Linked DNA regions of Homo sapiens. The protein of the gene in region 1 interacts with the protein of each later gene in a biochemical or structural test. Each region holds a gene or a part of one and is shown on either strand. Other genes may lie near its edges.

Region 1 (5,186 bases):
AAGTGAAAATTAAGAGAAAATATTGCTGAGTGAATGTTACAGTTATCAGGCAGCTTATATATTTCCTTCCTTCCTTCCTCCCTCCCTCCCTTCCTTCCTCTTTCTTTCTTTTTCTTCTTGTTGAGTGAATGCCATAATTATTAGGCAGCTTATATTTTTATCTTCCTTACTTCCTTTCTTTTGCTTTCTCTCTCTGTCTTTTTTTGAGACAAGGTCTCACTCTGTCACCCAGGCTAGTGTACAGTGATCATAGCTCACTGCAGCCTCGCCTTCCTGGGCTCAAGCGATCCTCCCACCTTGGCCTCCCAAAGTGCTGGGATGACCGGTGTGAGCCGCCGCACCCAGCCTCAACCTTTGTTTTTCTGACTCCTGTGTGCAGGCATGCATCACCACACCGGTCTATGACAACAACCTCACATCAGAGTAGTGTAGGTTCGTGTTTAGGAGCGGAGACCCTGGAATCAAACTCTGTGAGTGCAGATTTCAACTCTGCCACTTATGATCTTGGACAAGTTTTTTATTTATTTTTAAATTAAAATATGTCCAGCTTTGTTGAGGTATAATTGAAAAACAAAAATGGAATATATCCAAGGTGTACAAGTTGATGTTTTGATATACGAATCCACTGTGAGACAGTTACTACTAGCAAGCTAATTAACATACATCACCTGACACAGTTAACTTTTTTGTGTGTGAGAATACTTATAATCTACCCTCTTAGCAAATTTCAGCTGTACACTGCAGTATTGTTACCTAGAGTTGGACAAATTATTTAATGCCATGTGCCTTAGTTTCATTTATAAAATAGGGACATTAAGAGTGAGGACTCCATAGGTCTCTGAGGATTCACTGAACTGATATACATCATAAGTTTGGAAGGCACCCGGAAGCTAGCACTGTCAGCCACATTTACAACGTAACAATTGTATGTGGCAATACAAGCTTACAGCACAGTATAAGCTTAAGCTATTTACTTACTCCAGCGCTTGCTAGGCAACAGGCACTCTGCAAATTACTGTGTACTGTCTCATTCAGTCATCCCCATTTTAACAGAACAAGGCAGTGAGGCTCAGATACAGAGGGAGATTTGTCTCCAGGGCCACCAGGCCCCTGAAGGCAGAACTAGGATTTGCACCCAAGCACTAGGACGTGAGCACAGCCTCCTTCCTCAACCACTGGGTGACTCGACCTCTCTGTGAGCTTGGGTGGGGGAGTGCGCTCTCTGGGAGGGATACAGCCAAAAAGCTCCCCAGCTCTTAGGCAGGTGTGGGGACCTCCCCAGTCTCAGCTGAGATGCTGGCTCCTGCCTTCAACATCAGACTTTCTTTTTCTCCCAGGAGTTTTTGCCAAACCCTCGCTCTCAGCCCAGCCCGGCCCGGCGGTGTCGTCAGGAGGGGACGTAACCCTACAGTGTCAGACTCGGTATGGCTTTGACCAATTTGCTCTGTACAAGGAAGGGGACCCTGCGCCCTACAAGAATCCCGAGAGATGGTACAGGGCTAGTTTTCCCATCATCACGGTGACCGCCGCCCACAGCGGAACCTACCGATGCTACAGCTTCTCCAGCAGGGACCCATACCTGTGGTCAGCCCCCAGCGACCCCCTGGAGCTTGTGGTCACAGGTAGGGGTAGTGCAGACCAAACCTTTCTTCCTCAGCCTTTATAGGTCCTGATGGCCATTCCAAGGGAGGGGCCATAAGTGGGAAGGAAGTGGGAGGGCAGGAAGCCCTGGGCTGCAGGGGCGGGGCCGTAGGTGGGAAGGAAGTGGGAGGGCAGGAAGCCCTGGGCTGCAGGGGCGGGGCCGTAGGTGGGAAGGAAGTGGGAGGGCAGGAAGCCCTGGGCTGTAGGGGCGCGGCCATAGGTGGGAAAGAAGTGGGAGGGCAGGAAGCCCTGGGCTGCAGGGGCGGCGCCAGAGGTGGGAAGGAAGTGGGAGGGCAGGAAGCCCTGGGCTGCAGGGGCGGGGCCGTAGGTGGGAAGGAAGTGGGAGGGCAGGAAGCCCTGGGCTGCAGGGGCGGGGCCGTAGGTGGGAAGGAAGTGGGAGGGCAGGAAGCCCTGGGCTGCAGGGGCGGGGCCGTAGGTGGGAAGGAAGTGGGAGGGCAGGAAGCCCTGGGCTGCAGGGGCGGGGCCGTAGGTGGGAAGGAAGTGGGAGGGCAGGAAGCCCTGGGCTGCAGGGGCGGGGCCGTAGGTGGGAAGGAAGTGGGAGGGCAGGAAGCCCTGGGCTGCAGGGGCGGGGCCAGAGGTGGGAAGGAAGTGGGAGGGCAGGAAGCCCTGGGCTACAGGCAGCTGGGAGAATGGAGGTTTCTTTTTTTTTTTTTTGACGAAGTCTCACTCTGTCACCCAGGCTGGAGTGCAGTGGCGCGATCTCAGCTCACTGCAACCTCCGCCTTCCGGGTTCAAGCGATTCTGCTGCCTCAGCCTCTCGAGTAGCTGGAATTACAGGTGCCTGCCACCATGCCCGGCCAATTTTTGTATTTTTAGTAGAGACGGGGTTTCACTATGTTGGTCAGGCTGGTCTTGAACTGACCTCATGATCTGCCCGCCTCGGCCTCCCAAAGTGCTGGGATTACAGGCGTGAGCCACCGCGTCGGACTTGACTACCATTCTTAAAGGGGGTTTCTTTCAAAAAAGAGCAGCATACCTCATAATGTGGTTATATACATGCAATGGAATATTATGCAGCCTTAAAAAAGAAGGAAATTCTGACACATACTACAACATGGATATACCTTGAGGACATTATGCTAAGTCAGTCACAAAAGGACAACTACTGTATGATTCTAGTCAAAGGAGGTATCTAATGTCAACACTGTAGAAACACAAAGTACAATGGTGGTTGTTAAGGGCCAGAAAGAGGAGAGAGAAGGAATTAGTGTTTAATGGGCACAGAATTTCAGTTTTGCAAGAAAAATAAGTTCTAGAGGTCAACATATTGTACCACAATGTGAACATACCCAACGCCACTGATCAGTACATTTAACAATGTCATATTAAATCAAACAAAATACATCATTTAGTTTTTGGTAGAAAAATCTGTTTTGCCCCCAGGGTCACAGTGAGGGGTAGGACACAGGAATCCAGAAGAAATAGAACTGAGGTTGAAAAAGGTGGACGGGAGCTGCATGCATTTCCTTGTTAATAGCCCAGAATGTGCCAGGTGTGCTTTACAAATGCTGCTGCTTTTTTTTTTTTTTTTTTTTTTGGGGGGAGTCTCACTTTGTCACCCAGGCTGGAGTGCAGTGGAGTGATCTCAGTTCACTGCAACCTCCACCTCCTGGGTTTAAGCGATTCTCCTGCCTCAGCCTCCTGAGTAGATGGGATTACAGGCACCTGCCATCATGCCCAGCTAATTTTTGTATTTTTCGTAGAGACAGGGTTTCACCATGTTGGCCAGGCTGGTCTTGAACTCTTGACCTCAGGTGATCTGCCTGCCTCGGCCTCTCAAAGTGCTGGGATTACAGGTGTGAGCCACCACGCCTGGCTAAGCCTTTTTTTTTCAGATGGAGTCTTACTGCGTCACCCAGGCTGGAGTGCAGTGGTGCGATCTCAGATCACTGCAACCTCTGCCTCCTAGGTTCAAGTGATTCTCCTGCCTCAGCCTCCCGAGCAGCTGGGATTACAGGTGCACACCACCACGCCTGGCTAATTTTTGTATTTTTAGTGGAGACGGGGTTTCACCATACTGGCCAGGCTGGGCTTGAACTCCTGACCTCAAGTGATCTGCCCTCCTCAGCCTCCCAAAGTGCTGGGATTACAGGCATGAGGCACTGCACCCAGCTCAAATGCTTATTAACATCCACAACAGTCCAGTGATGTAAGCTACTTTAGGCTCATTTTTCCGGTGAGGAAACTCAGTCACGGAGATGTTTCGTTATTTGTTCAGGACCCACAGCGACAGAGCACAGATTTATCTCATTTTCTGATTTCCCAGGAACCTCTGTGACCCCCAGCCGGTTACCAACAGAACCACCTTCCCCGGTAGCAGGTAGGTTCTGCAGGGTCCATTCTGGTGCACAGCGTATGAGGTACACGGACCCCTTCTCTCTCTCCTCTCTGCCTAGACTTCTCGATTTAATTCAGTTGGTTCTTTCACAGATTTGCTTTGTTTTAAAAATCCTTTATTTCTGCCTGTAAACAGGGTGGGTGTCCTAAGTAGTTAGATGTTAAGATGCTGCCCCCAATCCTACTCTAGGTGGATGGTTTATCACATATAACATGCAGAAGAATAATCGGAGTGGCTTGCTATACTGTGGAGTCCAGCTGGTTGAATATGGGTGACAAAAACAAACAAACTAACCAACCAACCAACCAACCAACCAACCAACAAACCTGTAGAGTCCGGGACTCTGTTTCTGAGTCACTGAATGCATTGATCAGCGGTTCTCAAACTTCCATGAGCATAAGAATCACCTGGAGGCTTAAAGAATAGATTTCTGAGCCCCCAGGGCTTCTGCTTCAGTAGGTCTGGGGTGAATCCAGTCATTTTCATTCCTAGTAAGTTCCCAGGTGATGCTGATGCTATGGCTCCAGAATGCTGCTTTGAGAACCACTGCGGTAAGTTTTGTGTGAGGCGTGTTATCCCCTCCACTTTCACAAACATCTCAGCTGAATACGGTGTACCAGACTACGGCCTGCACTTTAAGAATATCATACGCTAGGCTGGAGGCTGGGCGTGTCTAACATTCCCTGTGTCTCAGAGTGAAGCACCAAGGCAGGAGAAACATGCTGGAAAGAGCCGAGGTTGATAAGGATGAGATTTGCGGGGTTGAGGGCAGAGTGAGGGCTATTATGCCTAGTGGGCAGGGACATGGAAGATGGTCACATACTGTGTGCGTGCATATGTGTGTGTGCGTGCATGTGCGTGTGTGCGTGCATATGTGTGTGTGCGTGCATATGTGTGTGCATGCGTGCATATGTGTGTGTGTGCATGCGTGCATATGTGTGCGTGTGCTTCTGACTGAATTTTTGAACTTTCTCTTTTGAAATGGTTCTAGAGTCACAGGAAGTCTACAATGATAGAACAGAAGAATCCCATGTGCTCTTTTTCCAGTTTCCTCTAATGGTTACATCTTACGTAATTAGAGTACAACATAAAAACCAGGAATTTGACATTGGCATAAAGTAGGTGTCTAGTTCTATGCCAATTTGTCACAGTTGTAGATTCGCGTCACCATCACCGCAGTCACTGT
Region 2 (5,186 bases), on another chromosome or scaffold:
AAATTCAACAACATTCTAGAAAAAGCCATTTTAAGGAAAAATCTAGAGCAATAGTATATGTGTGGCATACATGTGTTTCGGTCTTATAAAAAGCATATTAAAATGTTTGTAAGTTAAGGGCTTTTTGAAATTTGAAAAATCAGCTTGCTGCTTTTAAAATGATGTAATTAGTTTCTAGTCTTCTAGTTATTTCCTCTAAATCACATAAAATAGATCATATATCCAAATTATGCAAATCTGAATGACTAAAAAATCAACATAAAACTTCCTGACATAAACATTTGAAGGATAGTATGCAGCCATGGGTTTTTCTGGTACTACAATGTAGTAATTTTCCCTGTCTCACTGAAATGGAGATTTTATGGGCTTTCATCAGAAATTTAAATTTCAGTACAAACTGTTTTGGTCCCATTCTGTGAAGCCACTTTAATCAAAGAGAGACAGAAAAGTTACATGACTTGTGGTATAGGCCTCTGACAGCATCTATCTTACAAGAGGCCCAGAGGCCTCACACAGCCTCATGTGGCACTGTGAAGAAAAGAATTTGATTTTAAAGGTAATTGAGGTGGTCTTCTGTGCCACCAAATCCTTCCCAATAACTCACCCCCCCACTGAAATAACAGGGGATGCCATCTGTCCCTGTGATGGAGTCAGGGTCAGCCCAAGAAAACCTGGATGGGATGGGACTTGCTCTCAGCCTCCAGGGACAGAGCCCTGACCATGCAATTTTATACAATTGGGGAAGCCTCAGATGGGCAGTCCCAGGCTGGGACGGCAACTCCACGAAATCACCAGGGTCCCACCTCTTCCGTCTCCATCCTGCTGCCGCTGGTGTTTGCTTTCTATGTGAAGACTCCAGCCTTCACTTGTTTCTAGGGAGAGAGAAAGAGGCAAGGGAAAAGGGGAGCTGACAGCAAAGCCCTGCACAACCGATCTGCGGACCAAAACTCCCTCTGCCCTCTGCCCGGGGCTAGAGAGTTTGGAAGCACACTCATTGAGCTGGGCAAACTGCCACCCCAAATAATATTAGGGCTCTGTCACCAAAGAAGAGGAGGAGCTAGGATGAGGTGAGCACCTGGCACCTGCCCAGAACCTCGCTCCCTTCCTGCCACCCACAGCAAGTGATAAAGAGCCCTGTCACTGGCCAAGCAGGGCAGGATGCACCTCTACAGGTTTTTCCCTCTGTGCTCCTGTTCTTTCTGACTTAATAAATGAGCCCATCCTAACATCTGCTACTGTTACAAAAATCATATATACAACACGAATGTGAGTAAGAAAAGCTAAACAGAATTTTTTTTTCTAACAAATATTCTCTCGTAGGTTCCAGAATCTCAGCTTTTACCTGGACAGAGGTTTCAAACTAAAGGTATGTTTTCATAGCAACATAGTTAAAATTTTTTTTCTTTACTATTAGAGCTTCTATAAAGTGATTGTCCTAAATGTTTTTATTTTTTTTTATTGTGGGACATATATAACATAAAAATTTACCCTCTTAACTATTTTTAAGTATACATTTCAGCAGCATTAGGTACATTCACATTGTTGTACAACCAATACCGCCCTCCATCTCCAGAATGCATCTTCTCAAACTCCATACCCATTAAACAATAAGTCCCCATTGCCTCCTCCCCCAGCCGCTGGCAACCTCCGCTCTTTCTGTCTTTATGAATTTCACTACTCTAGGTACCTCCTAGAAGTGGAATCATACAGTAATTGTCCTTTTGTGTTTGGATTATTTCACTTAGCCTGATGTCCTCAAGGTTCATCCATGCTGTAGAAAGTGTTAGAATTTATTTCCTTCTAATAGTGAATAATATTTCCTTGTAAGTATATGCCCTGGCCGGGTGCAGTGGCTCACACCTGTAATCCCAGCACTTTGGGAGGCCAAGTTAGGTAGATCACCTGTGGTCAGGAGTTCGAGACCAGCCTGGTCAACATGGTGAAACCCCGTCTCTACTAAAAACACAAAAAATTAGCCAGGCGTGGTGGTGGGCGCCTGTAATCCCAGCTACTGGGGAGGCTGAGGCAGGAGAATAGCTTGAACCCAGGAGGTGGAGGTTGCAGTGAGCCGAGATTGCACTATTGCACTCCAGTCTGGGCGACAAGAGCGAGACTCCGTCTCAAAAGAGAAAAACCAAAATGCTACATGATGTTTATCCATTCCTCCATCAATAGATGTTTGCATTATTTCCACATCTTGGCTATTTTGAATAATCCTGCTGTGAACATGGGTGTATAATTTCTTAAATATAGAGTTGTATTTATAGTTTTAGTTTTAAGTGATTTGCAAGAACAAATACTGGACACAGTGTATACAGCAAGGTACTCTCTGTGGGCCGTGCAGACCCTGAGCCCACTAGGCAGGAAGCACATGTCCTTCTTCCAGTTGCCCCCTCTTAGTGCTTCCTCTCATCCTTTGTGCCCCATGAGGTTTGTTAAAACGCTTCTGCTGATGGATTCTTACAGGTGTTCTCTTGTGTTCATCTTTAGATCCAGAGGAACAAGGAGACATTGTGGTAGCCTTGTACCCCTATGATGGCATCCACCCGGACGACTTGTCTTTCAAGAAAGGAGAGAAGATGAAAGTCCTGGAGGAGTAAGTGCTCTCAAGCACGCCACGGCTGCTCGTTTCCTCAGGCCACTGAGTCCTGCAGGCTGTCCCCTTGTCTTGCTTCTGGTGCTACAGCCATAGCCCGGCCCCTTTCTTGTAATGGGTATGAGGCCTCCTTGCTACCCACAGGGAGTGGGCAGTGGAAGGAATAGAGCCAAAGGGATTTTCCTTTTAAGTCGGTCTGTGAGCACACTTCAGGGGGTTTCCCTTTGAAGACAGACAGTGGTTTTTCTTTAAAACAATTTTTTTTTTTGAGATGGGATCTCTCTCTGTCATCCAGGCTAGAATGCAGTGGCATGATCATAGCTCACTGCAGCCTTGAACTCCTAGGCTAAAGCAATCCTCTCACCTCAGCCTCCTGAGAAGCTAGGACTACAGGCATGTGCCACCAGGCCTGGCTAATTTTTAAAATTTTTGTAGAGATGGGATCTTGTTATGTTGCCCAGGCTGGTCTTGAACTCCTGCTGTCAAGCAATTCTCCTGCCTTGGCCTCCCAAAGTGCTGGGATTACAGGTGTGAGCCACCACACCCAGCCTGGTTTCTTTCTTTATCCACTCTTGCCACCTTAAGAAATTTGGGTCTGTGTGGCCCATGCATGATACTTGAAATGTCACTTTTCTTTTGTTATATTACTCATGTTTAGACTGGGTTCATGGGCCCAGCCTAGCTTGAGTTCTAAGGGTACTGAGCTACAGCAGCTGTGTTGGGAAATTCTCAACTCAGCAGCTGCCATGCTTTTGTGAGGACGCCTGAGTGTCGTCATCTCCTCAACCCCCTCTTGCTGACTCAGACATGTGGCAGTGTCAGACCATAGGCATGCAGGACAGTGCTCAGAATAAGAAACTCCAGTTGCTTTAATTCTAGCTTGCTTTTCTTACTAATCTTGCATTAAATGTCACTGTGACCTGCCAAATAGGGTTTGAGGGGGAGACTCCCTTATTAAGGACAAGGTGTTCCGTGGTTGAGAGCAATGTTGCATATGGGTTGAACAGGGACTTAAGCCTGATCCTGGCCCTGCCACTTGATAGCTGTATGACCTTGACAAGACCCTTAAACTTTATACCTTGGTTTCTTTACTTATAAAATGGGAATGACAGTACCTAGATCATGGGGTTGATGTGAGCATGATGCATGTGTTTAAACATGACATAAGCAAAGAGGATGCAGAGCTTAGTATTAGTTCTAGTTGCCTTCATGCCTTACAGACAAGGATCCTGTCTGTGTGTGGAATTTATAGAGGAATGCAGTTAAGGCTCAAAGGGACCCATTCCTTCCCCCATTACCAGCTTACCTGCTTGCTTCTTCCAGTGCTCATCCCTGCCTCCTCCCTGGCTCCATGCCTGCCTTTCTGCTGAGGACTCGAGCATGGTGCTGAAGCTCACTTGCTTGGAATTGTCTTATGGTTTTCTTCTTTTCATAGTGTCCATCTCTATGATAACTAGATGTTTGAACAAAGGAGTTTATAATGCATGAACTGTGGACCAGTATTCCCTTGACTCTCATTTCTATAAGGATTTGAAAGCATTTCTTAGCTATCCTGGGGCAAGTTACAAACCTTTTGTTTCTGTGAGATGGGAGCCATTTGTACCAACTCTTCTTTGTGCACCCCTGATCGCAGTGATGCGTGCTTTAGTTGTAAGGCTGTTTTCCTTTGCTTCTGTCTCTAAACATATTTTAATTCCATCACGGAGAGTGAATTTTCCCACTGGATTCTGGGGTTCCAGAGATGTTCTCCACCCGCCTTCACCATCCTAAACAAACATCTTGAGACAATTGCTATTGTAGCTGTTGAGTCTTGGATATAAACACTTTTTTCCTTTTATTTTTAGTTGACATGGAATAATTATATGCAGTCATGGGATACAGAGCGATATTTTGATACATGTATGCAGTGTGTACGGATCAAGTCAGCGTAATTAGCATATCCATCATCTGGAACATTTATTCTTTCTTTGTGTTGTGAACATTCAAAACCCTCACTCCTGGCTTCTTTTCTTTGTCTCTCTCTCTCTCTTTTTAATAGCTTTATTGAGAATTCACAATACCATACAATCCATCTACTTAAAGTGTACAATTCAGTGATTTTTTTAGTATAGTCACAGAATTGTGCAATCATCACCACAATCCATTTTAGAACATTTTAAATACCCCAAAAGGAAACCCTGCACCCCTTAGCTGTCACCTCAACTCTCCCATTCTCTGCAGCCCTAGGAAACCACGAATCTACTTTTTATCTCTGAAGACTGACCTATTCTGGATATTTCACATAAATGGAATCATACAATATGTGGTCCTTTTTGACTGCCTTCTTTTATTTAGCATAATGTTTTCAAAGTTCATCCCTGTTGTAGCATCTCTCAGCACTCCATTCCTTTCACTGCTGAGTAATACTCCACTGGATGGATATTCCAGATTTTGTCCATTCATCAGTTGATAGGCATTTTGGTTGTTTCTACTTTTTGCTTTTACAAATAAGGATGCTTTGAACATTCATGTACAAGTTTTTGTGTGGACATTATGGTTTCATCTTTCTTGGGTATATGTCAAGGAGTATAGTTGCTGGGTCCTGTGGTAA

Evidence for each region.
Region 2: the proteins of GP6 (region 1) and LYN form a complex in vitro, tested with the Homo sapiens proteins (one study listed by BioGRID).

Annotation. Positions count from the first base shown.
Region 1 is NC_000019.10:55,024,014-55,029,199, reverse strand, and holds part of GP6 (platelet glycoprotein VI isoform 2 precursor), read left to right. Parts: intron 1-1,337; coding exon 1,338-1,622; intron 1,623-3,928; coding exon 3,929-3,982; intron 3,983-5,186.
Region 2 is NC_000008.11:55,945,128-55,950,313, forward strand, and holds part of LYN (tyrosine-protein kinase Lyn), read left to right. Parts: intron 1-1,320; coding exon 1,321-1,366; intron 1,367-2,490; coding exon 2,491-2,596; intron 2,597-5,186. UniProt on the Homo sapiens protein: Non-receptor tyrosine-protein kinase that transmits signals from cell surface receptors and plays an important role in the regulation of innate and adaptive immune responses, hematopoiesis, responses to growth factors and cytokines, integrin signaling, but also responses to DNA damage and genotoxic agents.